Homo sapiens: one gene and its partners. The protein of the gene in region 5 purifies or fractionates together with the protein of the main gene of each other region. This does not show direct contact. Each region holds a gene or a part of one and is shown on either strand. Other genes may lie near its edges.

Evidence for each region.
Region 1: the proteins of DRD3 (region 5) and BRI3BP purify together in Homo sapiens (affinity purification with mass spectrometry; one large-scale study listed by BioGRID and IntAct). This does not show direct contact.
Region 2: the proteins of DRD3 (region 5) and PTDSS2 purify together in Homo sapiens (affinity purification with mass spectrometry; one large-scale study listed by BioGRID and IntAct). This does not show direct contact.
Region 3: the proteins of DRD3 (region 5) and SH3GL3 purify together in Homo sapiens (pull-down; one study listed by IntAct). This does not show direct contact.
Region 4: the proteins of DRD3 (region 5) and ARCN1 purify together in Homo sapiens (co-immunoprecipitation; one study listed by IntAct). This does not show direct contact.
Region 6: the proteins of DRD3 (region 5) and SLC9A3 purify together in Homo sapiens (affinity purification with western blotting; one study listed by BioGRID). This does not show direct contact.
Region 7: the proteins of DRD3 (region 5) and TM9SF4 purify together in Homo sapiens (affinity purification with mass spectrometry; one large-scale study listed by BioGRID and IntAct). This does not show direct contact.

The regions. Positions count from the first base shown.
Region 1 is NC_000012.12:125,000,145-125,003,644, forward strand, and holds part of BRI3BP (BRI3-binding protein precursor), read left to right. Parts: intron 1-3,500. UniProt on the Homo sapiens protein: Involved in tumorigenesis and may function by stabilizing p53/TP53.
Region 2 is NC_000011.10:448,879-453,078, reverse strand, and holds the start of PTDSS2 (phosphatidylserine synthase 2), read right to left. Parts: upstream 2,801-4,200; 5' UTR 2,624-2,800; coding exon 2,442-2,623; intron 1,723-2,441; exon of another isoform or gene 742-1,722; coding exon of another isoform or gene 644-741; intron 1-643. UniProt on the Homo sapiens protein: Catalyzes a base-exchange reaction in which the polar head group of phosphatidylethanolamine (PE) or phosphatidylcholine (PC) is replaced by L-serine. Catalyzes the conversion of phosphatatidylethanolamine and does not act on phosphatidylcholine.
Region 3 is NC_000015.10:83,586,841-83,590,340, reverse strand, and holds part of SH3GL3 (endophilin-A3), read right to left. Parts: exon of another isoform or gene 3,366-3,500; intron 3,359-3,365; coding exon 3,255-3,358; intron 2,984-3,254; exon of another isoform or gene 2,828-2,983; intron 1,680-2,827; coding exon 1,570-1,679; intron 1-1,569. UniProt on the Homo sapiens protein: Implicated in endocytosis. May recruit other proteins to membranes with high curvature.
Region 4 is NC_000011.10:118,578,909-118,582,408, reverse strand, and holds part of ARCN1 (coatomer subunit delta), read right to left. Parts: intron 1,164-3,500; coding exon 900-1,163; intron 1-899. UniProt on the Homo sapiens protein: Component of the coatomer, a cytosolic protein complex that binds to dilysine motifs and reversibly associates with Golgi non-clathrin-coated vesicles, which further mediate biosynthetic protein transport from the ER, via the Golgi up to the trans Golgi network.
Region 5 is NC_000003.12:114,172,553-114,176,052, reverse strand, and holds part of DRD3 (D(3) dopamine receptor), read left to right. Parts: exon of another isoform or gene 1-127; intron 128-3,500. UniProt on the Homo sapiens protein: Dopamine receptor whose activity is mediated by G proteins which inhibit adenylyl cyclase. Promotes cell proliferation.
Region 6 is NC_000005.10:482,950-486,449, forward strand, and holds part of SLC9A3 (sodium/hydrogen exchanger 3 isoform 1 precursor), read right to left. Parts: intron 2,283-3,500; coding exon 2,204-2,282; intron 1,749-2,203; coding exon 1,571-1,748; intron 534-1,570; coding exon 313-533; intron 1-312. UniProt on the Homo sapiens protein: Plasma membrane Na(+)/H(+) antiporter. Exchanges intracellular H(+) ions for extracellular Na(+) in 1:1 stoichiometry, playing a key role in salt and fluid absorption and pH homeostasis.
Region 7 is NC_000020.11:32,140,714-32,144,213, reverse strand, and holds part of TM9SF4 (transmembrane 9 superfamily member 4 isoform 1 precursor), read right to left. Parts: intron 2,718-3,500; coding exon 2,549-2,717; intron 2,449-2,548; coding exon 2,319-2,448; intron 1,233-2,318; coding exon 1,109-1,232; intron 1-1,108. UniProt on the Homo sapiens protein: Associates with proteins harboring glycine-rich transmembrane domains and ensures their efficient localization to the cell surface.

The DNA of each region.
Region 1 (3,500 bases), on a different chromosome or scaffold from region 5:
GACACTTTCCAGTCCTTTTTCCCCTACCAACATTTTAACAGCTTTTTTGAGGTGTAATTGCACTACACCTCAATAGACTGTGCGTATTTAAAGTGTACAGGTTGACACCTTTTGACATACACACTTGTGAAAAATTACCACAGTTAAGATAAAGTTTCATATGATTTTTTTTTTTTTTTTTTTTTTTGAGAGGGAGTCTCGCTCTGCCACCCAGGCTGGAGTGCAGTGGCGCAATCTCGGCTCACTGCAAGCTCTGCCTCCCGGGTTCACACCTTTCCCCTGCCTCAGCCTCCCGAGTAGCTGGGACTACAGACGCCCACCACCACGCCCGGCTAATTTTTTGTATTTTTAGTAGAGACGGGGTTTCACCATGTTAGCCAGGATGGTCTCGATCTCCTGACCTCATGATTGCCTGCCTCGGCCTCCCAAAGTGCTGGGATTACAGGCGTGAGCCACCACGCCCAGCCTGTTTCCTATAATTTTTTATGTTGATAATTTTTCAAAGTACTAAAATGCTGAAAGAACAGAACAAGGAATAGCTGCAAACATCTCCCCTAAAGTCACCAGTTCTTACATTTCCCCTCAAACTTTTTTCTCTGCAAACACATCCGATAGACACATACACACATGCACACACATTTATTTTTATTTTTTGGCAGGATCATTTGAAAGTTAGTTGCAGACGTCTTAATACTTTTTCCTACAGAACCACAATACCATTGTCTCAGCCAAGAAACTTAAATATAGTACAGTATTTTGTAACAGATAGTCCATATTCAAATTGTCTTTATAGCTCATAAAAAATCCAACACCCAGTCAAGGACTGCTCATGCATTTAGTGTTCATGTCTCTAGTCTGTCAGAGTTTCCTCACTTTTGGTGGAGGAAGGGACTTAATTATGAATTTTTTTTTATTTTTATTTTTTTTTGAGACGGAGTCTTGCTCTGTCACCCAGGCTGGAGTGCAGTGGCGCGATCTCGGCCCACTGCAAGCTCCACCTCCTGTGTTCACGCCATTCTCCTGCCTCAGCCTCCCAAATAGCTGGGACCAAGGGTGCCCGCCATCACGCCCGGCTAATTTTTTTTGTATTTTTAGTAGAGATGGGGTTTCACCGTGTTAGCCAGGATAGTCTGGATCTCCTGACCTCGTGATCTGCCCGGCTCGGCCTCCCAAAGTGCTGGGATTACAGGCATGAGCCACCGCACCCGGCCCCAATTATGCATTTTTTTCTTTTAGACAAGCTCTCACTCTGTAGCCCAGAATGGAGTGCAGTGGCGCAGTCTCGGCTCGGTGCAACCTCTGCCTCCTGGGTTCAAGCGATCCTCCCACCTTAACCTCCTGAGTAGCTGGGCTTACAAGCATGTGCCACCATGCCTATTTATTTATTTATTGTATTTTTCGTAGAGACAGGATTTCTCCTCGAAATCCCTGTGTTGCCCAGGCTGGTCTCTTGACTCCTGGGCTCATGCGATCCTCCCGCCTTGGCCTCCCAAAGTGCTGGGATTATAGGCGTGAGCCACTTCGCCTGGCCCAGTAAGGGACTTTTACAGCATTGACATTTCTGAAGATCACAGACTAAATGTCTTTTTTTTTTTTGAGCTATAATTCATATACCATACAGTTTATTCATTGAAAGCTCAGCGGTTTGTAGTATATTCACAGTGCTGTACAGCTGTCACTACAGTCAGTTTTAGAACATTTGCATTACCCCAAAAAGAAACTCTGTACCCATTAGCAGTCACTACTTTTTTCCTTTGCCCCAACTCCCAGCCTTAAGCAACTGCCAATCTGCTTTCTGTCTCTATTTCTGAGCCTACTGTGGGCTTTTCATAGGAGTGGAGTCCTGTACAGTCTGGCCTTTTGTGTCTGGCTTCTTTCACTTAGCCTCATGTTTTCAAGGTTCATCCATACTGCAGGATCAATACTTTATTCCTCTTTATGGCTTTTTATTTACCTGATCATCAACTGATGCACATTTCGGTTTATGTCACTTTTTGTCTATTGTGAATGGATGCTGCTGTGAATATCCATGTGCAAATATTTGTGTGGGCATTGTTTCCAGTATTTTGCGGTGCATACCTAGGAGTCCAGTTGCTGGGTCATACAGGAACTTTTTGTTTAACACTTTGGGGAACCGTCACCCTTTTCCAAGGCAGATGTACCGTTTTACCTGCCTACCAGCATGTGGGGCCTGGTTTCCCCACATCCTTGTCAGCACTTGCTATGGTCTACCTTTTTAATTCTAGCCATCTTGGCAGACGTGAAGTAGTATTGCTGTGGTTTTGACAGTCCAGAACTGGTTTTTTTTTTTGTTTTGTTTTTTTTTTTTTTGAGACAGAGTCTCGCTCTGTTGCCAGGCTGGAGTGCAGTGGCACAATCTCTGCTCACTGCAACCTCCGCCTCCGGGGTTCACGCCATTCTCCTGCCTCAGCCTCCCGAGTAGCTGGGACTACAGGCACCCGCCACCACGCCCAGCTAATTTTTTGTATTTTTAGTACAGACAGAGTTTCACTGTGTTAGCCAGGATGGTCTCGATCTCCTGACCTCGTGATCCACTCACCTTGGCCTCCCAAAGTGCTGGGATTACAGGCGTGAGCCACCACACCTGGCCCAGAACTGTCTTTTGAAATGTCCCACAGTGTGTATTGTATTATTCTGATTATCTCCTCCGGGTTAGGCTCAGACTTAGCTTTCATGGCAAGAATTCTGCAGAAGGCATCATGTGTCCTTGCTGAGGCAGTACCATATCGGGGCTCGTGGTGTCTGTTTGTGCCATCGCATTCTCGTTGGTTGACGCTGAATTTGATCTCTGGGTTGAGGCTGGGCAGGCCCACTGCGCTGGGGGTGCCCTTTCCCCTCTGTGGTTCATACGTGGTCTGTATGTTATGTTCCAGCATTTTCCGTTCATCTGGCTTTTGCATTTCTGTGTGTTCTTCAGATGCTTGGGAAACCTCTGAATGGCAGAATCTCCCGTCCCCTCTCCCTGGCTTGCTTATCAAGATGCCTTTGCCCTCATGGCCTGATTTTCCATAGGACCCGTTTGCATGTGCCTGAGGGTGATGGAGGTAAAGCGAGATTAGGATGCAGGAAGGCCATTGTCACCCAACCCCGGTGTTGGATGTCCCCGGGTGTTGGATGTCCCCCGCCTGACTGCTGCAAGAAGAGCGCTGATGAAATCCCAGGCTTGAAGCAATCTTGTTCCCTCCCATGGAGGCGATGGCTGGGCCTTGTTTGTCTGAGTCCTCAGGCATCCACAGTTTGCTCACCTGGTCCCCTTATTTCAACTTTCCATTCTGAAAATTGTCCAACATAACCAAAGGTAGGGAGAGTAGAGTGAACCCTTGTTCACCCAGGTCTTCCCATGTAGCAACTTTCTGCCATTCTGGTTACTTCTTTCCTTCCTAAATTTTTTTGAGGGTGCCTGGAATAATATTTTAAAGCTAATCCAATACATTAGTTCACCTTTGCATATTTCAGTTAGCATCTTTAACAATAAAAAT
Region 2 (4,200 bases), on a different chromosome or scaffold from region 5:
CCGTCACTGGCCCGAGGAAGTGCACCCATCCTTGAAAATGAACGCCCTGGCTGGATGTGGTGGTGCATGCCTGTAATCTCAGCAATCTGGGAGGCTGAGGCGGAAGGATCACTTGAGGCCAGGAGTTGAAGACCAGCCTGGGCAACACAGGGGGACCCTCTATTAAAAATAAATAAATAAATAAAAATGAATAAAAAATAAAAAGTAAAACTCTCTAAAACACAAAATTAGAGTTAAAAAAATGCCAGCACAGCAAGTCAGTGCAGGTGGACTCAGGAGGTCAGTGTGAGGCTCTGCAGGTAATGAATTCTCACCAGGCAGGCATTGAGTTACCTGCCACCCAGAAGCGTGAAGCTCCTTCCTCTGCACAGGGAAGGGAGGAGGCACAGCAAGAACCTGCCCCATGCGTCTCTACAGGGACAGGGTCGAGGGGAAAGCCAGAGCCAGAGCCACCCACCCAGAAGACCCAGGAAGGAGGTACCTGGACCAGCCAGCCCCGCTGCACCCGCTCCTGGAGAGCCCTCCTGACCCCCTTGGCCTCCTGACAGGCAAGCTCTGCTGCGCCCAGCCGTCTGTGTCCCAAACACCCCTTGTGGGCAGGGACCACTGGTCTGGGCTTCTAAAGAGACCGGCCCCCTCCTACCTTTGGGCTGCTGCTCCTGCTTCCCTGGTACTGGGTGGGCTGCGCAGGCTTGCATGTGCCCCCTGGCTCCTGCCACACTCAGCACCCAGCCAGCACATTTTGAGCCTTCTGAAGTTCCATGCCTGCACCAGAATCTAAGCTTCTTGTTTAGTTCTCTGCTATGTCCCGTAGAACGGTAACTGACAGGCAGTAGGGGTCCCCACAATGTGCTGAACGGCCAAATGAGAAACAAGAAGAGCCAGTCTGGTCTCCTCGCTCCGGGACCTCAGAGGAGCCCGTCTGTTCTCCTTGCTCCGGGATGTCAGAGGAGCCCGTCTGGTCTTCTTGCTCCGGGACCTCAGAAGAGCCAGTCTGGTCTCCTTGCTCCAGGACCTCAGAGACTCCGGTGGTCCCCAGCTGTGCTGCGGGAGGACAGCCTGAAGGGGTGTGGCAGGGCACCTGATGGAGAGGCCTGATGTCCACAGGGCCCGGAAGCCAGAGGGTCCACGTGGCAGGCACCCCATCTCCTCTCCCTCCCGAGGGCCCCGCAGCCACCCGGTACACTCATCTCCCCAAAGGAGAGCTCGGATGCCCTCCCTGCAACAGCAGCTGCCCACACCTCACGGAAGACCCTGCGTGGGGCCTCCTCCACCCTAACCTGCTTTCCCACCACTTGGACAGTCTCTCTCCAGAGCTTCGGCTGCGGTGACAGGCCAGGACCGGTTAAGTCCCTGTCTGTGGTGGCGCCTTCCCCTGACAAGTCCCTTACTCCTCCATCAGGCCCTCCTCGCCCCTCAGATTTGCTCTCCGACCATCCCACAGCATGGTTCTCTTGGAAGCGTCCATAAAGCCTTCCTTCCACTGCTGGCCGCAGGCGCCTGTCTCCCACACGTTTTCCTGGGGCTGACCCCACCTCTACTGCCCCTGTGCCCCCGGGCCTTCCACAGGATGGGAACTGGGCACCTTGCAGTCAAGAAGAGCCAAACCCTCCTCTCACGAAGCCTGCTTTCAGGTCGACGGCTTGATCCTTCTCACAGAGGAGCATCGGCAAAGGGCCAGCCCAGGGTCGCAGCTGTCGGGAGTAGGAGCGGCACCTGGAGCCTGTCTGGACACAGAGTGCCACACTCCAGCTGCTCCCGGGGGCCTCTTCCTTTTCCACCCCCATTAAAGGCAGAGTGGCGGACAGGGGGACCCCAAGGTGTAGCTAGGGCTGAGTTGTGCAGGGAGGAGGCGCTGGCCCCGCTAGGGGCAACTGAGGAGAGAAACAGAGCCTGGATTCGACGAACACCGACTACATTCCTGAAGCACGCACAACACTCTGCTAATCAACACGATCGCCACGTGGGGTCGGGCGCGACACACAAGATGATTTCGTGCAGCCGCAAGCACTGAGGAGCAACCACAGGCAGAATGACGGGGGACACAGGTGAAGCTTCGACAGCAGGACAGAGAAAGCGTTTCTGGGGTGACGCTGGAGGCGGGTGGCGGGGAAGGGGTCTGGATCGCAGAACCGCGCGGTCAGAGCCAAGGCGGGCAGGGGTGGGGAGGGCGGCGAGAGAGACGCAAAGCGGCCGCAGGGAGGGTCTGCCCAGGGTCTCCCCCACCTACAGCGCCGCCCTCCGCCCGACCCGGCGTCGGGAGCTCGGTCCGGCCGCTCCCCGGGACCCGGGGGGCGGTGCTGCCACACCCTCAAACCCCCGGCCACAGTCCTGGACTCCAAGACGGCGAGAGGGCGCTGCCGGGGACCCCCAGGCCAGCGGTGCCGGAACCCCCAGGTCGAGGGCACCCTCGCCGCCCCGCGGCCGCCCACTGCCCTCACCAGAAGAAGGTGTTGGTGCCGTCGTCGTAGACCTCGGACTCGGTGCTGCGGCGGCCCTCGCCCGGCCCGGTGGCTTGGCCGGCAGACGGCCCGTCAGGCGGCTCCTCCAGCGAGGCCCTGCCCGCGGGCACCGGGGACTCGGGCCGCGGACCTCCGGCGTCCCTGCGCTCGCCCCTCCGCATGGCGTTTCGGCCCGGAGCCACTCCGCCCGGCGCCTCGACCCCACGCACACCGGGTCACCGGCGAGAGGACGCGCCGCACACAGCGCGAGGAGCGCTGGGAAGGGGTCGCGGCGCTGGCCCGCGGGGTCTTAGGAGAGCAGCGCGGGGCCGGCCAGTAAAGGGTGTGCGGTGCATTGTGGGGCTTGTAGTCCGCGCGGGGCATGCTGGGCCTTGTGGTCCGACGTCGCGGGTTGGACGCAGTGCTTGCTGGGAAGGATGACGCCTGGTTGCTGGGAAACCGGAGCCGGACCGCCCTGCGGCTGAGGTCGCAGGAACCAAGCTGCGGATGGCGCGGGTCTCGCCAAGGCCTCCAGAGCTTGGAGGTAACCACAGACATCCCCGGCGGCCTGGCCCGAGTCCCTCCACCCCTTCGCCCCTTCCTCGCCGACGGATCCCGGAGCCCAGCCCCGTTCTCCTTTTGGGGCGCTTCCCGACCCTTCACCCCATGCGACCCGGGTCATTCCTTTTTGAGACGGAGTCTCGCACTGCCGCCCGAGCTGGAGTGCAATGGCGCGATCCCGGCTCACTGCAACCTCCGCCTCTCGGATTCAAACGATTCTTCTGTCTCAAGCTTCCCGAGTAGCTGGGATTACAGGCGGCCGCCATCACGCCCGGCTAATTTTTGTATTTTTAGTAGAGACGGGGTTTCACTATGTTGGCCAGGCCAATCTCGAACTCCTGACCTTGTGATCTGCCGCCTCGGCCTCCCAAAGTGCTGGGATTACAGGCGCGAGCCACCGCGCCCGGACCGGTCTGGGTCATTCTTTCGCAGGATCGCGTGAAATTGGGCGGGCGAAAATGGTGCGGACACGCTGATTTTAGTTGACCCAAATTGTTGACATGGTACCCTGCAAAAAAATTAGCTCCTGAGCCACTCTGAAAAGCAATGTGGCAGCTCCTCAAACCTGGAAACAAGTGTCCACGCCAAATTTACACACTAGCGCTCCTAGTTGCAGCATTTTGATAATAGCGGCATGTTATTAGCCATAGAGGAGCGAAGCATGCGCATGCTACAGCACAGCTGGACCTTGAAAACATTATGCTAGGCAGGCCGGGCGCGGCGGCGCACGCCTGTCATCCCAGCACTTTGGGAGGCCAAGGCGGGCGGATGACTTGAGGTCAGGAGTTCGAGACCAGCCTAGGCAAAGTGGTGACACCCCATCTTTACTAAAAATACAAAAATTGCCCTGGCATTGTGGCGGGCGCTTGTAATCCTAGCTACTCGGGAGGCTGAGGTGGGAGAATCCCTTAAATCCGGGAGGTGGAGGTTGCAGTGAGCCGAGATTGTGCCACTGCACTCCATCCTGGGCGACAGAGCGAGACTCCGTCTCAAAAAAAAAAAAAAAAATGCTAGGTGAAAGAAGCCAGTCACAGGAGACTACGCATTATGTGATCCATTTGTATGAAATGTCCAGGAAATGCAAATCTATGAAGACAGAAATTAGATGAGTTTTCACCGGGGGCTGGGGAAGGGGTAATAAGGAGCGACTACAAAGGGTAGCAGGTTTCTTTCGGGGCGATGAAAGTGCTGTAATATT
Region 3 (3,500 bases), on a different chromosome or scaffold from region 5:
CACAAAATGTAAAGTCACAAGCAAAAGACAGACACATTTGACTACATCAAAATAAAAGCTTCTGTATACTCAAAGCAAAACTAAACAAAGCAAACAACAGCAAAAACAACAAAGGGACAAGGCACTCCAAAAACAAAGTTTAAAGATAAATGACAAACTAGGAAAAAAATTATTAATATCCTCATATGGAAAGAGCTCCTATAAAACAATAAGACAAAGCAAACTACTCCCAAAAAACACAAATAAATGACATAAACAGACAATTCAGACATAAGGAAATACAAATTAAAATATAGAAAAGAAAGTTCACCCTCACTAATAATCATGAAAATGCAAATTAAGACTGGATACCATTTTTTTCTCATGAGTGCTTGGCAGAAATGGAAGTCTACTGGCATGGGTGTGGGGAAGCAGGTGTTCATGCTTTAATAGTAATGTAGCCAGCACAGTGATAAAGGATACTCACTGTAGCAAATAACTGGAAAAAACCTTAACGTCCACCAATAGGGAAATGGTATAATAGAAAACTATGAAGCTGTTAAAACAGTGGGATAGATCTATATGCATGATATGGAAATAACTCGAAGAAACAGTGATACATTTTAAAAAGCAAACTGCCAAACAATATGCCTAGTATAATCTCGCATTTAAAAAACAGAAAAAAGGCTGGGTACAGTGGCTCATGCCTATAATCCCAGCACTTCAGAAGGCCGAGGCAGAAGGATTGCTTGAGCCCAGGAGTTGCAGGCCAGCCTGGGCAACAAAGTAAGACCTTGTCTCTACAAAAAATAAAAAAATTTGCCTGGCAGGGTCACATACACCTGTAGTTCCAGCTACATGGAAGGCTGAGGCAGGAGGATTGCTTGAGCCCAGGAGGTCAAGGCTGCACCGAGCCATGTTCATGCCATTGCACTACAGCCTGGGTGACAGAGCAAGACTTTGTCTCAAAAAAGAAAAAAAGAAAAAACAGAAAAAAATCCAAAACGCTGTTTATGTGTATATTTATGTACCTCAATAGATATGATAATAGTTATACCAAATTTTTTTAACAGTGGCTACATCTAGGAAGCGAACTGCGATGGTGTAGGTGATCACAAGAGACTATAGAATGACTTATACCATTAAATTTTTTTTTCTGTTTGATTATTTTACCAATTTTTTTCTGTTTGATTATTTTACTAAAAGACACATTTGCATCACTTGTTTAATAAAAAATAACGATGCAGCACTTAAGATAGTATCTAGCATATAGCAGTTGCTCAAAAATGCTAATTTCAACTTAAAAATAAATTAAGAAAATATTTTCAAAGAGTTAAAAAAATAAAGGATGATGTAGCCATAATGGTTCTATGGCCAAGGTTCTAAATGCTACATTATATAAGTGATAGAATTCTTCCCCAGGGAACAGAAAAAAGGGGCACGTTTAGGGGAAAAGGGAATTTACCAAACAACCAAAGAAAGATATCCAGGGTCTGTGTGTATTCACTGACCCAGAAACAAGCAGTAAATAAGTGTTTCTAGAAGTGCTTTACTAAAGGCACACTTAGCATATTAGAATGGTCAACTTACCTGTCGTCTTCACTACAGAGGTGGTGGAAACTCCATTGAGCTCACTAGAACTCCTTTTCACAGGCCTTGGCTTGTATTCTCGTCTGGGGACACTGGATGCAGCTGATATTCTGTAACACACATCGTAAGATGAGCCAGACATCTGATGTTGAAAGCTTTCCAAACACACATCCTCTCTGCCTTGTTGAGCACAGGAACTTAGGTTACAGCCAGTGGTCATGAAAGGGACGATTTTTACACACTGACTCTTGAGTAGCCCGAAGTGATGGAGGTGATATCACAAATGCAGTTTTTCAACTCCCTATTTGAGCTTGTGAGTGAAATTCATCTTGAAGAAGACTAATTGGGCCAGCCATGGTGGCTCATGCCTGTAATCCCAGCACTTTGGGAGGCCAAGGTGCTCACCTGAGGTCAGGAGTTCGAGATCAGCCTGGCCAACATGGTGAAACCCCATCTCTACGAAAAATACAAAAATTAGCCAGGCATGGTGGTGGGCGCCTGTAATCCCAGCTACTCGGGAGGCTTAGGCAGGAGAATCTCTTGAAACTGGAAGGTGGAGGCTGCAGTGAGCAGAGGTTACGGTGAGCCAAGATGGCGCCACTGCACTCCAGCCTGGGCAACAGAGCACGACTCCATCTCAAAACAAAACAAAACAAAACAAAAGACTAATTTTCTTCATCAAGTCTCTGAGGCATCCAGCAAGTGCCTGGGACGCGGTCGGCACCCAGTGATGGGAGCTGCCTTCTCCCTCACTCTACTCTTATAGATTATGATAGAATTATGAAAATACACTCCTGTCAGTAACAGGTAAACTATCTGCCTGCAGAAGTGGATGCTTCAGGGACTGAACACATCTTTGTCTTCCCTAGGTAACTACGTCATTGATTTAAGTAAAAATCCCTCCAAATTTATGCATTACCATAATCCTGTGTAAAACAATTTTCTGTTATCAAACCTAATTTAAAATATTTTAATAAACAGGGTTGCCATGCAGACTATATATAATATTACTAATTTTCAGAAAAGTATAGACTACATCTATGATTAAATTCACAAGGAATGCAGAAACCTTTCTTTGATTGTTCAGAAGATATTTTTGACTCTTTCAATACCTGTCAATATTATGAACACAGCCTGAAATTTGTCAATATTTTGACTCTTTCAATACTAGTCAATATTATGAACATATCCTGAAATTCGTACTGGTGAAGTGAAGGCACTACCTTTTTTTTTTTTTTTTTTTTTTACAGATATTTACATATTTTCCATACAGCATCTCACTTTTTTCCATAGCTCTGGATGTTTTCCATCCCTTTGTGAATGGGGAGTTAAACTCTCATCAAATCAGCAATGAAGCCAGGGTAGTTCTGTAGGGGTTGATGTCCCAGGTGGGAGAGCAACTTGGTTAGTTGCCCTAAACACGGGTCACAAAAAAAAGGGATTTAATGAAAAGAAAAAGGAGAAAAGCTGCCAGGTCCCTTTTCCCAGTTCTATCCTACTGGCCAAAGCCAGTACTTATTATCTCAGTCCCATCCCACATCCAACCATGAAAGCCAGTGAAAGAAAATTCAAAACAGAATGAGGCAGGGGAAGGGGGAGATGGAGAGATGGAGAGACAGACAGATGGATTTCAATAGATGTTACCTCCGCAGCCCTTGGCTTGTAAGAAACGTGGAGGTGCTTACCGCATCTGTAGCTTGCTCTGCAGCTCCTGCAGAATCTCTGTGGACTGTCTGTGATAGTCTAATGCTGCCTCTATGAACACAGCCAACTGGCTGACTTGTTCTACCTGCAGCAGAAGTGCAAAATTATTCCATGGAGGCCCGAGCCTGTGTAATGTCCAGAGAGAGAGGAGACCAGCAGCAAAGACCTAGCTTTGCAGGGAAGACCAGTGTCTGCCTTGGTCCATTTCATTTAATTTCATGTAGGAG
Region 4 (3,500 bases), on a different chromosome or scaffold from region 5:
CCTGTAATCCCAGCACTTCGGGACGCCAAGATAGGCAGATCACCTGAGGTCAGGAGTTCGAGACCAGCCTGGCCAACATGGTGAAACCCCGTACAAAAATTAGCCAGGCATGGCGATGCACATCTGTAATCTCAACTACTCGGGAGGCTGAGGCCAGAAAATTGCTTGAACCTGGGAGGTGGAGGTTGCAGTGAGCCGAGATTGCACCATTGCACCACTGCACTCCAGCCAGGGCAAGAGCGAGACTCCGTCTTTAAAAAAAAAAGAATCAGGGTCTTGCTGTGTTGCCCACACTAAAGTATAATGCCTGTGCACTTGAACTCCTGGCCTCAAGCAATCCTTCTGCCTCAGCCTCCTGAGTAGCTTGGACTACAGGCACATGCTACCGCACCTGGCCTTAGCCTTCATTTTAAGCAAGACTTTGGCATAAAGTCTTAAAAGGTGTGTGTGTGTGTGTGTGTGTGTGTGTGTCTGTCTGTCTGTCTGTCTCTGGATCAGTAAGTCTTACCTAAGTCTTCATTTTAAGCAAGACTTTGGCATAAAGTCTTAGAAGAGGGGTGTGTGTGTGTGTGTCTGTCTCTGGATCAGTAAGTCTTACCTAAAAAACATTACCTAAAAAGCATAGCCAAACAAGTGTCAGAACTAGAACGGCAGATTAGAACAACTGCTTAAGAACTGGGAAATGAAACAGTAGTTCCCATATTCTTTTGAGACATCTATAGTCTAAGAGGACACCCAATAAATGTCTGCTGAATAAACAAGGTGCTGCAGCAATAAGTCGCTGGGGTGCGGAGTAGGAACCTGCAAACTGGTTAGCATCAGCTGCTTTGGAGGAAAAACTAGTTTCACATAAAATGTAAAACAAAAAGTGGAACCCAGTATTATAGCAGTACTCTTACCACTCTTGAGAAGAGCCTTAGGGTCTCCAAATCTTCTAAAATGTTGCTGTTTTTGGTAGTGATCAGTACCATATACAGTTTCTCCATAGGCTGGTAGACATATCTTACACTCTCTGTTTCAACAAACGTATGTTGTTTTCCAGTGTTCATGAGCTTTGGAAAAGCTGCTAATAAGCCCTCAATCCGAGTTCGGGTCATTTCCACAAACTGTCGAGAAACAATAGCCTTTCCTGCTTTTGTGCAGACCGCTGCTGCCAACAGCACCTGCCAGGAACATATGCATAAGTAAGTACTAATTATTTCTTCACATCTGTTTTCTCAGCATCTCAGGAAATGTTCCATAGAATGACATATTTATTTAGTGACATGACTAGTAGTAGTATTATTTTTAAGACAGGGTCTCACTCTGTCACCCATGCCGGAGTGCAATGGCAAGACCACAGCTCACTACAACCTCAAACTCCTGGGCTCAAGAAATCCTGAGTGGCTGGGACTACAAGTGTGTGCCACCAAGCCTCGCTAATTTTTAAAAAGCTTTTAGTAGAGACAGTATCTCGCTATGTTTCCCAGGCTGGTCTTGAACTCCTGGGTTCAAGCGATCCTCCTGCCTTGGCCTCCCAAAGTGCTGGGATTATAGGCGTGAACTACCACGACCAGCTGACATGACAAGTAATAGAATACTGACTTTCACGGGCACAGTGGCTCACACCTGTAAACTCAGCACTTTGGGAGGCCAAAGCGAGTGGATTACTTGAGGTCAGGAGTTCGAGACCAGCCTGACCAACATGGTGAAACCCCATCTCTACTAAAAATACAAACACATTAAGAGACTTAGACATGTCAATCAATCACAATGTATAAATCAAATTTGAACAGTGACTGAATAATTGATAATATTAAAAATTATTGCTAATTTTTTAGGTGTGAAAATATGCTATCATGGTAATATATTTTTATGTAAGGAATACTTATATATTTTTAAAAAAGAGTTGTGTAGTTTTGAATCCTTCCATAGTCTCTCATATTAAAGGTGCTCCCTCAATGACTTTATATTGAACTAAAATAATTGTCTGGGATACATCTTATCTTCAAACTACGCTAGTTTTGCATGTAGTACTAACAAAAGGTCACTGGATTTAGTAATTATCCTGAGGATCAGAATTCACAATTTCTTTCTTTTTTTTTGGAGACAGGGTCTCACTTTGTCACCTAAGCTGGACTGTAATGGTGCAATCTTGGCTCACCGTAGCCTCAACTTCTGGGCTTGAACAATCCTCCTGCCTCAGCCCCCTGAAAGGAGCTGGGACTATAGGCAGGTGCCATCATGCCTGGCAAATTTTTGTATTTTCGGTAGAAGTGGGGTTTCACCATGTTGCCCAGGCTGGTCTTGAACTTCTGGACTCAAGTGATCAGCCCACCTTGGCCTCCCAAAGTGCTGGGATTACAAGCATGAGTCACCACGCCTAGCCAGAACTCACAATTTCATGTGTTGAATATCAGTTACAAAATATTCCTTTTAAAAGCAACTATCCTAATATTATATAAATGGGTTTTTATGACTTGGGATAAAATTTCCCAAACTGCCAATATATCACACATGGATTCAAAACTGCTAAATACCAAACTGATGATTCAAAAAGTGGCCCCAGTGATGACATGATGTTCATAAAGAATCTAGAAAAAATTGTTTTATTAATATGAAAATGGAAAAAAGTAATTATTTCTAAATTAAACTTTATTTATTTAAAACATATACATATAAGTGAATTATTAACTATTTTAAGAACATATTTGACTATTTTTGCTACCTTTTTTTTTTTTAAGATGGAGTTTTGCTCTTGTTGCCCAGGCTGGAGTGCAATGGCAAGATCTCCGCTCACTGAAACCTCCACCTCCCAGGTTCAAGTGATTCTCCTGTCTCAGCCTCCCGAGTAGCTGGGATTACAGGCGCCTGCCACCACGCCCGGCTAATTTTTTTTTTTTTTTTTGTATTTCTAGTAGAGATGGGGTTTCACCATGTTGGTTGGCCAGGCTGGTCTCAAATGCCTGACCTCGGGTGATCTGCCCACCTCGGCCTCCCAAAGTGCTGAGATTACAGGCATGAGCCACCGCCCGGCCTATTTTGGCTGCATTTTAAAAAGTTTATACAATTGGCAAAAAGCTTTCCTTCTTAATAGTTTCATCAGAAAAGTAGGGAATTCCCTTATATTTGGGATCATTTCACATTGGTTTCTCCTTTTCCTAAAGACTTAGAACTAGTGTCCCAAATTTGCAAAGAACCAAGCTGATATTAGAAAAACTAAATGACTGGGAGTGAGAAAATCTATTTTCTAGTTTTGTTCTTCTATTTACTATCTGCCTGACCTTCAGTTACCCAACCTCTCTTAACCTCGTTTCTTTTCCTATAAAATGCAGCATTATCTAATGACCTTACAAGCTATTATGAGGGCCAAATGACTATAATGAAACTGTACTTCAGAAGTGCTATACAACTTGTAGCACATATATTCATGATGTAAAACAGCACCATTAGTAATAATAAACATGCATCTCATGAAAAAAATTTATGCCACTTCAAGGTAATGGATTTTTCTTTTTTTA
Region 5 (3,500 bases):
CTGACAACTCTCTGTTCCCCTGCCTTTTTAAATAGGTTATGCACTCACTCTAAGAGATGCCAGAACAAACTATAAAGACCAAGATAAATCAATACTTTGTAAGGCATTTAAAAGCTCATTAAAATGTGTAAGTAGTGTTATATGTAATGAATCTTAAAAGACTGACGCCAAGAGTAATCTTCTATTTCTCTGCCTTCTCTATTCTTTTACCTCCTATCCACTTTTAACTCCTAACACTGTTTGCTGGACTTTTTCCTCTGCCAAGAGGTTTGACAGCTACCTAAAAATAGTATAGCTGAATGCCAGTGGCTAATTATACAAAGGGAAACCCTCAACTCTGAAAATCAATTCTGAGCCTGATGTTGGAATCACAGTTGCATGGATTTCTGATTTCATATTTATTTTTTCCACATCTGATCTTAGATCCTTTATAGCAGAAGGTGGGTTAAACCGTGATTGTTCAGGTAGTTTCTGATGAGTTGTGGATGTGGGAGATGAAAGCAAAAATGAGTGAGATGCTAGATTACTCTCTGTCTCTCAGCTAATTGTTTCAACTTCCTCCCTGCTTAGATTTTGTAAGCATGAATGCCATCATGAATATCGTCCTGAATGTTTAAGCATGTCATCATGAATGTTGACATGATGACATTAAGAATGTCTTCATGAATGTTTAAGCATGAATGCCACCATGAATGTCAGTCATCATTTCCAAGTTCACTAGATACTTTACAATTGCAGCTTATTTAACTCTTCACCTATTCCCACTTTCCTCTTAACAATAAAAGCAACTATATTTCTAGTGCTATGTGCCAGACATTATGCTAGAGTGATGATTCTTCATGGGGAGAGCAATTTGCACCCCCGCTCCAGGATATGTGGCAATGTCTAGAAGCATTTTTTATTGTCCCAACTTGTGGGGAGGGGTATGCTACTGGCATCTAGTGGGTATATGTAAAGGATGCTGTTAAACCCCCCACAATGCACAGGACAACCTCCTCAACAAAGAATTATTCAGCCCAAATTGTCAGTAGTGCCAAACTTCATGTATATAATCTCATTTAGTCTTCATAATAACCTTATGGAATGGATATGATTATCTCCATTTTGCTGATGAGGAAACCAGCCTATCATTGTAAATTACTTAGAGAGTGATTGAGTTAATGAATTCTCTAGGCTCTTTGCTTCTTCTTACCTGAGACCCGTTTCCTATCTGTTAGCATATCTAACAGAGGGGAAAAGAAAGAAGAAAGCCCAGCTCAGTTCTGTGTTATATAAGCAACTCTGGTTTGAAAAAAAAAAAAAAAATCTAAGCAGGGAGGAAGTTGAAACAATTAGCTGAGGGATAGAGAGTAATCTAGCATCTCACTCATCTTTGCTTTCATCTCCCACATCCACAACTCATCAGAAACTACCTGAACAATCACGGTTTAACCCACCTGCTGCTATAAAGGATCTAAGATCAGATGTGGAAAAAATAAATATGAAATCAGAAATCCATGCAACTGTGATTCCAACATCAGGCTCAGAATTGATTTTCAGAGTTGAGGGTTTCCCTTCGTATAATTAGCCACTGGCATTCAGCTATACTATTTTTAGGTAGCTGTCAAACCTCTTGGCAGAGTAAAAAGTCCAGCAAAAGAGTAACAAGTATCCTAAGGTTTTATGCCTCCCTCTTACGTGGCAGGTGAGAGGAGGCTAAGACATTATTCACCAGTTGCAGACCCCAGAAAAGAGGGATTCTGGCCACTGTGTTCCAAAGTGGCCCAGTTGTGAAAGGGAAGACATTTGGGCCTCAGCCTGCCTTAAAAGTGGGAATATCCTTGAACAATCAGAAAGCATTGTATTTTTCCAAAAGCTCTTGGCAGCAGCGGTGCTATCTCCAGGGTAGCGGCTGCCCTCCTCTGAATAATGAGAAAATTATAATTATTATCAAGAATTATTATTATGTTTTAAAATACATTGAGTGCAAACAGTGTGCCAAGATAAAGGACAATTTTTTTAAACAATTCTCTAAATTCATTCCAAGTTTGTCACCCTTTCCCAAGTATTTGTTCATTTTAACTCTTTCATATTTCAGGCTGAAACATTTCAAAGTGAGGTACAAAATGACAGCCATGATTAGGCCGGTCTCCTAATCAAGGGAGAGCTACAGATACCTGGCTTGAGGGCAAATTCTGGCCACCAAGTCAGCCTCTACTTTTGCCAAGGCCTGAAGAGAGAGTTCCCATAAAGGTCTATATGTACCATGCTTAAATATTTTAAAGTTGTAACCAACAAGCCATTGAGTAAAATGTTTCATCCTCCCACCTTGACAAATACACCTTCGTAACAACATGGAAGGCCAAGTTTGAATTTAAGATTCCTGGACCTTTCAAAATTCCATACAAAATGTGATCATACAGGAGAAGCTGGGCCCCCACCCCTAATCTGCTTCAGGGACCCTGGCCTCTTCTCTCCCAACCTCAGGCTACATAGAATCTATTTGTCTGAGCTCTAACTGAAAGCCACCACTTGGCCCCAGGAACCCTACACATTTATGGCACAGTCTCCCGTCAGAGTGAGAGATTTAGAATGAGACCCGTGATGTCTTGGAAACAGGCTCTGAGCAGTTGGGTAGAGAATTCCCTGAGTGTGGTCTAGACAGGGTTGTAAACTTAGTGGACCTTCTCCTTGGCACTGTGGGAGGTTACAACATCATTCTATAGAGGTTAGAGGCATAACCAGTAGAGGGTGCCTTAGTCCTTTTGGGCTGCTATCACAAAATACCATAAACTGAGTAGTTTATAAACAACAGATATCTATTTTTGACAGTTCTGAAGGCTGGGAAGTCCAAGATCAAGGCACCAGAAGATTCAGTGTCTGGTGAGGGCCTGCTTTCTGGTTCATAGATGGCTGTCTTTTCACTATGTCTTCCCATGGTGAAAGAGATTAGCTAGCTCTCTGGGTCTCTTTTATAAAAGCACTAATCTTATTCATGAGGGCTCTGTCCTCATAACCTAATCACCTCTCAAAGACCCCCACCTCCTAATACCATCATATTGGGAATTAGGATTTCTACATATGAATTTAGGGAGACACAAACACCGAGACCACAGCAGAAGACCAGAGTGGACTCCTCTATAGCACCTCCTCTAGAGCTTGGGGCAAGAGTCACTTTTGCTTGGGTTTCAGGGTTACTCCCTAAGTCACAGGCCTTATGTCTTCCCCTAGCCTTCAGAACTGTGAGACAACAAATTTCTGCTCTTTATAAATTACCCAGACTCAGGTGTTCTGTTATAGCAACCCAAAATGGACTAAGATAGATGGGTTTCATTATTCCCACATTTTACATGGGAAGAATCTGGAGCTCAGAGAGGTAAAGTAATATGCATAAGGTCCCAGAGTTAGGAAGCAGCAGAGCTGGGATTGTAATCCTGCAACAGCTTCCCATCTCACTCAGAGTCCAAGCATGGTACTTTCAATAGCCCTGCACAATCTGTCTACCTCACACCCTCCTATTC
Region 6 (3,500 bases), on a different chromosome or scaffold from region 5:
CGTGCATCACACACACGGGTGCTGGGGGATGGGGCTGGGCGGGGGCGGGGCTGTCTTGCTTCCCGTTCCATCTCTCGTGCCACTGACCCTGTCTTGAGGCACATCCAGTGGAGTCAGTGGGAAACCAAGTGGTTTCCCTTGGGGTTCCAGAGCCTCCCACCCCAGCCCCGAGGCCGCCACCATCAGGTCCTCTCCTCTGCCTTGCACGGGGCTGCACCTCCATCTCCCTGGGCCCAGTAGAAAGCCTGCGCCTTCCCGGAGACGGTGCCGGCCCATCGGTGGTCCCACGGCCGCAACCCGGCCCCGCCTCACCGATGGCCCGGTACACGGAGATGAAGACCAGCGTCAGGAGCACGAAGGCCGTGTTCCAGGTCCAGATGAACGGGTTCACGGCCGAGATACCCAGGAACATGAAGATGATGGTCTCGGCGCTGCTGGCCAGCATCTTCATGGTGTAGCGCACGGTGGTGGCCGACTGCTCCGAGATGTTGGCCTTCACATACTTCTGACAGCAGATGCCACAGAAGGTGATGCTGCAGGGACAGACGCGCCTCAGGACACGGCCACCTGGCCTGGCGCCCGAGGCCCCCGTGTCCGCCCAGCCCCCCACGGCCTGGCGCCTGTAGGCCCAGAGTCACAGTTGTGTGGTTACGGGGGCCTCTTCCTCCCGAGCCAGGCTGGGCCGCCAGGGTTCCTGCCCACAGCCCTGCGGGGGCCACAGGCGGCATCACCGTCATGCAGATAATGGGCACCGGGGCTGCCTGCCAGCAGGGAGGGCAACAAAGGGTTCCAAAGTCCCTCCCCACCTGACCTGTCTCAGGGTGGGCACTGCTGTCGGCCCACAGACAATTCAGTGGAAACGCCAACTCCTTATTTTAAAATTTAAATAAATTCTTTGCCCCACACTGAATTCCCACCCAGCCTGGGAGCGCCAGCGGAGCGGGCGAGGTGACGGGACACTGCTCTGAAGGTCCCGCGCTAGGACAGAGGGCAGGGGAGGCCCTCCACTTCCTGTACTTCCCCTCACGGGGGTTCACGGGGAACTTGGTGATGCAGAGCCCGGAGCTTCTGCCACACACACCCCCGGTGTCCATGCGGCTGGCACCTCCCTCCGAGTTGGGGTCCCCCTGGCTGGCTCACCCCGCCGGACCCAGGAGGGTGTGGAGAAGCTCGGGTTGGGGTCCCCCTGGCTGGCTCGCCCCGCCGGACCCAGGAGGGTGTGGAGAAGCTCGGGTTGGGGTCCCCCTGGCTGGCTCGCCCCGCCGGACCCAGGAGGGTGTGGAGAAGCTCGGGTTGGGGTCCCCCTGGCTGGCTCGCCCCGCCGGACCCAGGAGGGTGTGGAGAAGCTCGGGTTGGGGTCCCCCTGGCTGGCTCGCCCCGCCGGACCCAGGAGGGTGTGGAGAAGCTCGGGTTGGGGTCCCCCTGGCTGGCTCGCCCCGCCGGACCCAGGAGGGTGTGGAGAAGCTCGGGTTGGGGTCCCCCTGGCTGGCTCGCCCTGCCGGACCCAGGAGGGTGTGGAGAAGCTCGGGAGGAGGGCGTGGAGAAGCTCGCGTGTGTGGGAGGGACTCACGCGAGGATGGCCGACAGCGACAGCATCTCGGACGTCAGGTAGGACAGGTAGGAGATGATGAACACGAAGCCGGGCTCGATGATACGCACATGCTTGGTGAAGCGCGTCACCAGCGACAGCAGGAAGGCGAAGACCACCCCCACCAGCGTGCCCCCCAGGCTCACCACGAAGAAGGACACTGGGTAGAGGACGCCCTTTGTGGCCGTGCCGGCCTTCCGGGCCCTTCCTTGCCAGGGGCCGCCTGGTGACCCCGCGGAAGTGCCGGGAGCCCGGGAAACGGGGGTGGATCCCTCACTCTCTTGGAGATCGGGCCTGGTCTCAGCACCAGCCTTGGTTCAGCAAGTGGGGAGGACCCTCCCGTGCCCCTGGGAGCCTGGCCCCAGGCCCTATCCGGCCGTCTGTCTCAGGAAGACCTGGCTGCCCTCATCCCTGTTCTGGGAAACACCCAGGAACCCCCAGGACCATGTCAAATCGTGTGTGAATCGCTCTGGACGGGGACGTGACGTGGACAGAAGGGCCCAGTGTAGCAGCTTTGAGTGCAAAGCTTTTTCCTGCATGGGCTGCAGGCCAGAGAAGACAGTTGGCCCCAGAGGAGACACGGCCGCCCACTCCCCCTGACCCACAGCTACACACCTATGCCCTTCACGCAGTCCACGCCAGTCACGTTGTCACCTCCCAGCGCCACGAAAGATTCAAACACATTGTACAGAACCTGCAGGGAAAACGGGCAGGGCGTTGGGTGGTCCTTGGTTAGTGCCACCCCCTCTCCGGGGCCCGGGCCTCGCTGGACTTGGCCCGAGTGTGGAGCCCATGGCACCCGAGGCCGTTGGAAGGAAAATCATCACAGGGCAATGGCCCCCAAAGGGGAGAAGCCCAGAGCCCAGCAGCCAGCAAGACATGGGGCAAAAGAATGTTCTGGAGGGGACCAGAAGCTTTGGGAGCAAAGCTGGCCTCTTCCTATCCTCTGCAAAACAGGGGCAGCTGCAAAGCTCCCTGCCACTTGAATTCTGAGTCTCATCTACGGAGACAAACCCAGGGTGTCAGTTTGAGTGACTTCCCTGCTGTGCTGGCTCTAGCCCCTGCCGTCTTTGCATGTTTTTAAACCTTAGCCCGGCAAAACCCAGAGATAAAATGCGGGGAAACCTTATCCACGCCCTGGGCTCCACGCCCAGCAAAGTGGTGACGCAGGTGAGACCGGCCGAGGGCCGTCCTGGGTGGGCCGAGGCCCCTGGGGAGAACCTGGCTCTGCACCCAGCTCTGTGTCTCTGGCTCTGGCCAAGGTGGGAGAGGACCCTGGGGCAGGCGTGTAAGTTGGGTTTGCAAATGCAGGCTGGGGTGGGGGGCCCATGAGGGTCCCGGGGTCTCTTGGGGCCTTCTCGGAGCTGGGCTTTTTAATGAAAATCCAGCTGGGAGGGAAGACAACCTCTTGGGAGACTCTTGCTTCTCCAGGGACGGGAGCCGCAGGGCTGCGGGGCACACGGGGCTGTCACTCTATTCCCGATTAAGTCTCACTTCCCAAATTCCCCCGAGAATATCTTGCCGTCTGGTGTGCGACACCCACAGGACTTTCCTCTTTCCAAAACCCCTAAGGGAACATGAGAGGCTGACGGGTTTCAAACCTTTCAAACCACAGGCACTTTCAGAGGGGAGAGGAAGCTGACCCCACCCTTCCCTCCGGCTGCGTCTGCAGGGTCCTCGGGGCTGGGGGAGGATGGGCAGGGGCAGCACGGGGCGGGGGCAGTGTGGGGGCTGGGATGGTGTCGGGGCCGGGCCCAGGGCTGGCCTCACTGACGGTTCCTAGGAGGGCCACTCTGCACGTGCCCCTCGGATGGCCCCATGACTCACTTCCGGGAGGCAGTGGCCCCATTTGATGGGATTGGCTTTGAAACGTCACGATTGTCACTGTGAAGTAGTAACCATGTTCCTTGGG
Region 7 (3,500 bases), on a different chromosome or scaffold from region 5:
CAAGCACTTTGGGAGGCCAAGGCAGGCAGATCACGAGGTCCGGAGTTTGAGACCAGCCTGGCCAACATGGTGAAACCCCGTCTCTACTAAAAATACAAAAATTAGCCAGGTGCGGTAGTGGGCGCCTATAATCCTAGCTACTTAGGAGGCTGAGGCAGGAGAATTGCTTGAACCCAGGAGACGCAGGTTGCAGTGAGCGGAGATCGCGCCACTGCACTCCAGCCTGGGTGACAGAGCAAGACTCTGTCTTGGGGGGAAAAAAAAAGATAAAATGGTAAGAAAAGGAGACAGGGAGACTCTAAGCTTGAAGAGCCAGTGGGGGAGCAGGTGGCCTCAAAAGCGTCACACATGCAAACGTAGAACTGCGCTCGGGAAGCTCCCAGGGGAGATGTGCTATGGAGCTCTTGAAGGGCAGGATCTATGTTTGGGACTTCTGTGTCTAATTTTGTTTGAACACTAAGTTCCACAGTGGAAAAAAAAAAAAAGTCCAAATACCACCAACATGGTCAAAATCCTGGGCATGCTGCTTAATTAAAAAGCACACTGTGATGATCAAGGGCCAAGAGGTGAGGCAAAGCCGGACCAGCTCCTGTGAGGCCCATCAGGACTGTGCTGGACTCTCAAACTCCCGCACACCTGTTGACCCTGGGCAAATTTTAGTTTATGCCAATCACTCACACAGCGGGAGAGGAACGAAGAAACCTGCTGCCTACAGGCTTTGTCTGTACCCTGGCCCCTTGTTCTCAACCCAGGGTGAGCTGGCTGGTTCTTGTGAGGAGGCCCAACAAAGCCCCAACTTGCTGTTTGGTCTTGGCCAAGTCACTAGCTCCTTTTGAGCCTCTAGTTCTTCCTTTGTAATCATCACGTACCTCCTGGGGTTGCTGGGAAGGGGTAAACTAGTAAGGTGTCTAGCCCGTGACACTGCAGCTGTCAGCTGCCCCCACACCCCGTCTTCTCTAATGAGAATACCATGATCCTACCTTGGCTGGGCCCACACGCCACACCCGAGCCCATCGGCCAGCTCAGGAGGGAGAAGAGTGCGAAGACCCTGCGTGGAGAAGCCCAGGCCCATCCAGCCCTGCCCCTCCGGCCACACCTCCCCACTCACCCTCCAGCCTGATGCTCTGGGGAATCACCTCGAAGCGGACGACACGGTACGTGTGCTCCTGGTCCTCTTCCATGTCCTCCCGATGATAGTAAAGGATGAATGAGAGGTGGTTGTGCAGGTAGATCTGAAACACAGCAACAGAGAAAGCACAACAGAACATCACTTAGGGATACTCTCCAGGTATTAGGGCCCTTGCCTCACCCAGCATGCCTGGTTGTACCAACCTTCCTAAAACACTGTTCTCATCACTCCCCTACTCAGAAGCTCTTCAAGGGCTCCCTGCAGCTTATCAGACAAAAGCCCATTTCTCAAAGTCTGGCATTCAAGGCCTTCTATCATCTGACCCTGATACAACTGGGTGTAATCATCTAAGTCACATGAGTTCACCTAGACTCCCCTGTGCCCACCGCCCCATGAACCAGTCTCTACCCTGCAATCACTCCAACTAGAATGCCACCCCCAACTCCACTCAGCAAAAGCCCACCAACTTCTCATGGCCCACCTCCTCTGTGACAACCTGAGTGTAAAAGGAGCTCCCTCTGACCTCGCCTGCAATTAATGGCCAGTGAAAGGCAGCTGGGACTGGAGACTTAGAGCCTCCCACTGTCGGTTCTCTTCCCAGTTAGGACAGACGCCCTTTGGGGACAGGGGCTGCACCTCAAAACACATACTTTTGTAATTTATTCCCTAACTAATATCTTTCAGTTTAGAAAGAAAGATAAGAGAATCAGGGCTATAATCATCACATTATTAGCTGATTCTCCAGGGCTGTGCTGGGAAGGGCTCACACGAATGTGCTAATTTACCCCGCCACTGCTGCTGCATACATTTTACAGCTAAGGAACCACAGGCTCAGGGTCACTTAGACAACTAGTAACTGGGAGAGGAAGGATTCAAACCCAGGGAGCCTGCACGCTCTTGACCACTACTTAGCCCTCTCTCCTACATACTGATGAAGTTCCACGGTTTTTTTTTTTATGTTGTTTTAATCTTACAAAAATGGAACCTAACTTCCTAAGAATTGTGGCTTCACCTCCCTGTAGCACCTCCCAGGGACTTGCCCGGAGCACTCGGACCTCTGACAGACCATCATGCCCAGGGCACCTGGAGAAACTTGCTGTGGCCGAGCCCCACCTTTTCTGTGGCCCCAAGTGCTCAGGACTCGTGAGGTGTGGCTCCCGGTCCTGTGAGCACGCCAAAGACACTCTACCTTGTTGACATCTGTGAAGCCGAGCCGGTAGCCGTGTTCAAACTGCACATCTTTTTCCTTCTTCTTGTCATCGCTGTCTCGGTTGGAGTAGAGCTCCAGCCGGGTGGCCACAGGCAGGTTGTCAGCAATGCTGGAAAGTGAAGGCCCCACTCAGTCCCTCTCGACCGCCTCTCCCGTCAGTGTCCTCCCCTGTGTGAGCCTGAGGCAGCAAGGAGCACAGGGCGACTTACAGGTGGACGTAGTAGTCTTCTGTGATCCGCTCGGCCACGAGTCGGCTCTGCTCCACTGTCAGGGTCACTGGCTTGTTGGACTGGCTGCACAGAACTTCACACTTCTTCTCGCTGTTCATGAGAACCTGGAAAGGGGTGTTGACAATCCGGTCCCCTCTCAGCACCTCTCCTGCCGTAAGAGAGACAGATCAAGCTCAGAGCTTCAGCCCTGAGGTTGCTGAGGTCAGCAGAGTCACAGAGACACAGGACTGCGGGGCAAACATGGGCTTTCAAGGACTTCAGCAGTGCCTCAGCCTGGCAGCCAATGCCCTTCCCATTGCTTCACGCCCAACGGTCCCAGCTAACCTCGACCTGCCACCCTCCTCCTTTGGGCTCTAGTGCTACCAGACCCCTTAGCACTCAGCACTCATCAAGCATCACATCCTTTTTTTTTTTTTTTTTTTTTTTTTGAGATGGAGTCTCGCTCTGTCACCCAGGCTGGAGTGCAGTGGCACGATCTCAGCTCACTGTGAACTCTGCCTCCTGGGTTCAGGCCATTCTCCTGCCTCAGCCTCCCGAGTAGTTGGGACTACAGGTGCATGCCACCACGCCCGGCTAATTTTTTGTATTTTTAGTAGAGACGGGGTTTCACCCTGTTAGCCAGGATGGTCTCGATATCCTGACCTCATGATCTGCCCATCTCAGCCTCCCAAAGTGCTAGATTACAGGTGTGAGCCACCGCGCCCAGCCAAGCATCACATCCTTCTATGCCTCTGGGCCTCAGTCGCTTCCTTCTCCTAGAGTTCCCTGCCCCATGCTCCTGGCCTCCCCAGAAGCCCAGTTTCCATTTCACTCTCTCTGGGAAGCCCTCCCTAACCCCTTCAGGACAAGCCCATCACTCCCTCCCCTGACTGCCCTGTGTGAGGGCAGCATTATGCAGTGGAGGGATGACTCTGACTCTCGGCTGCCTGCC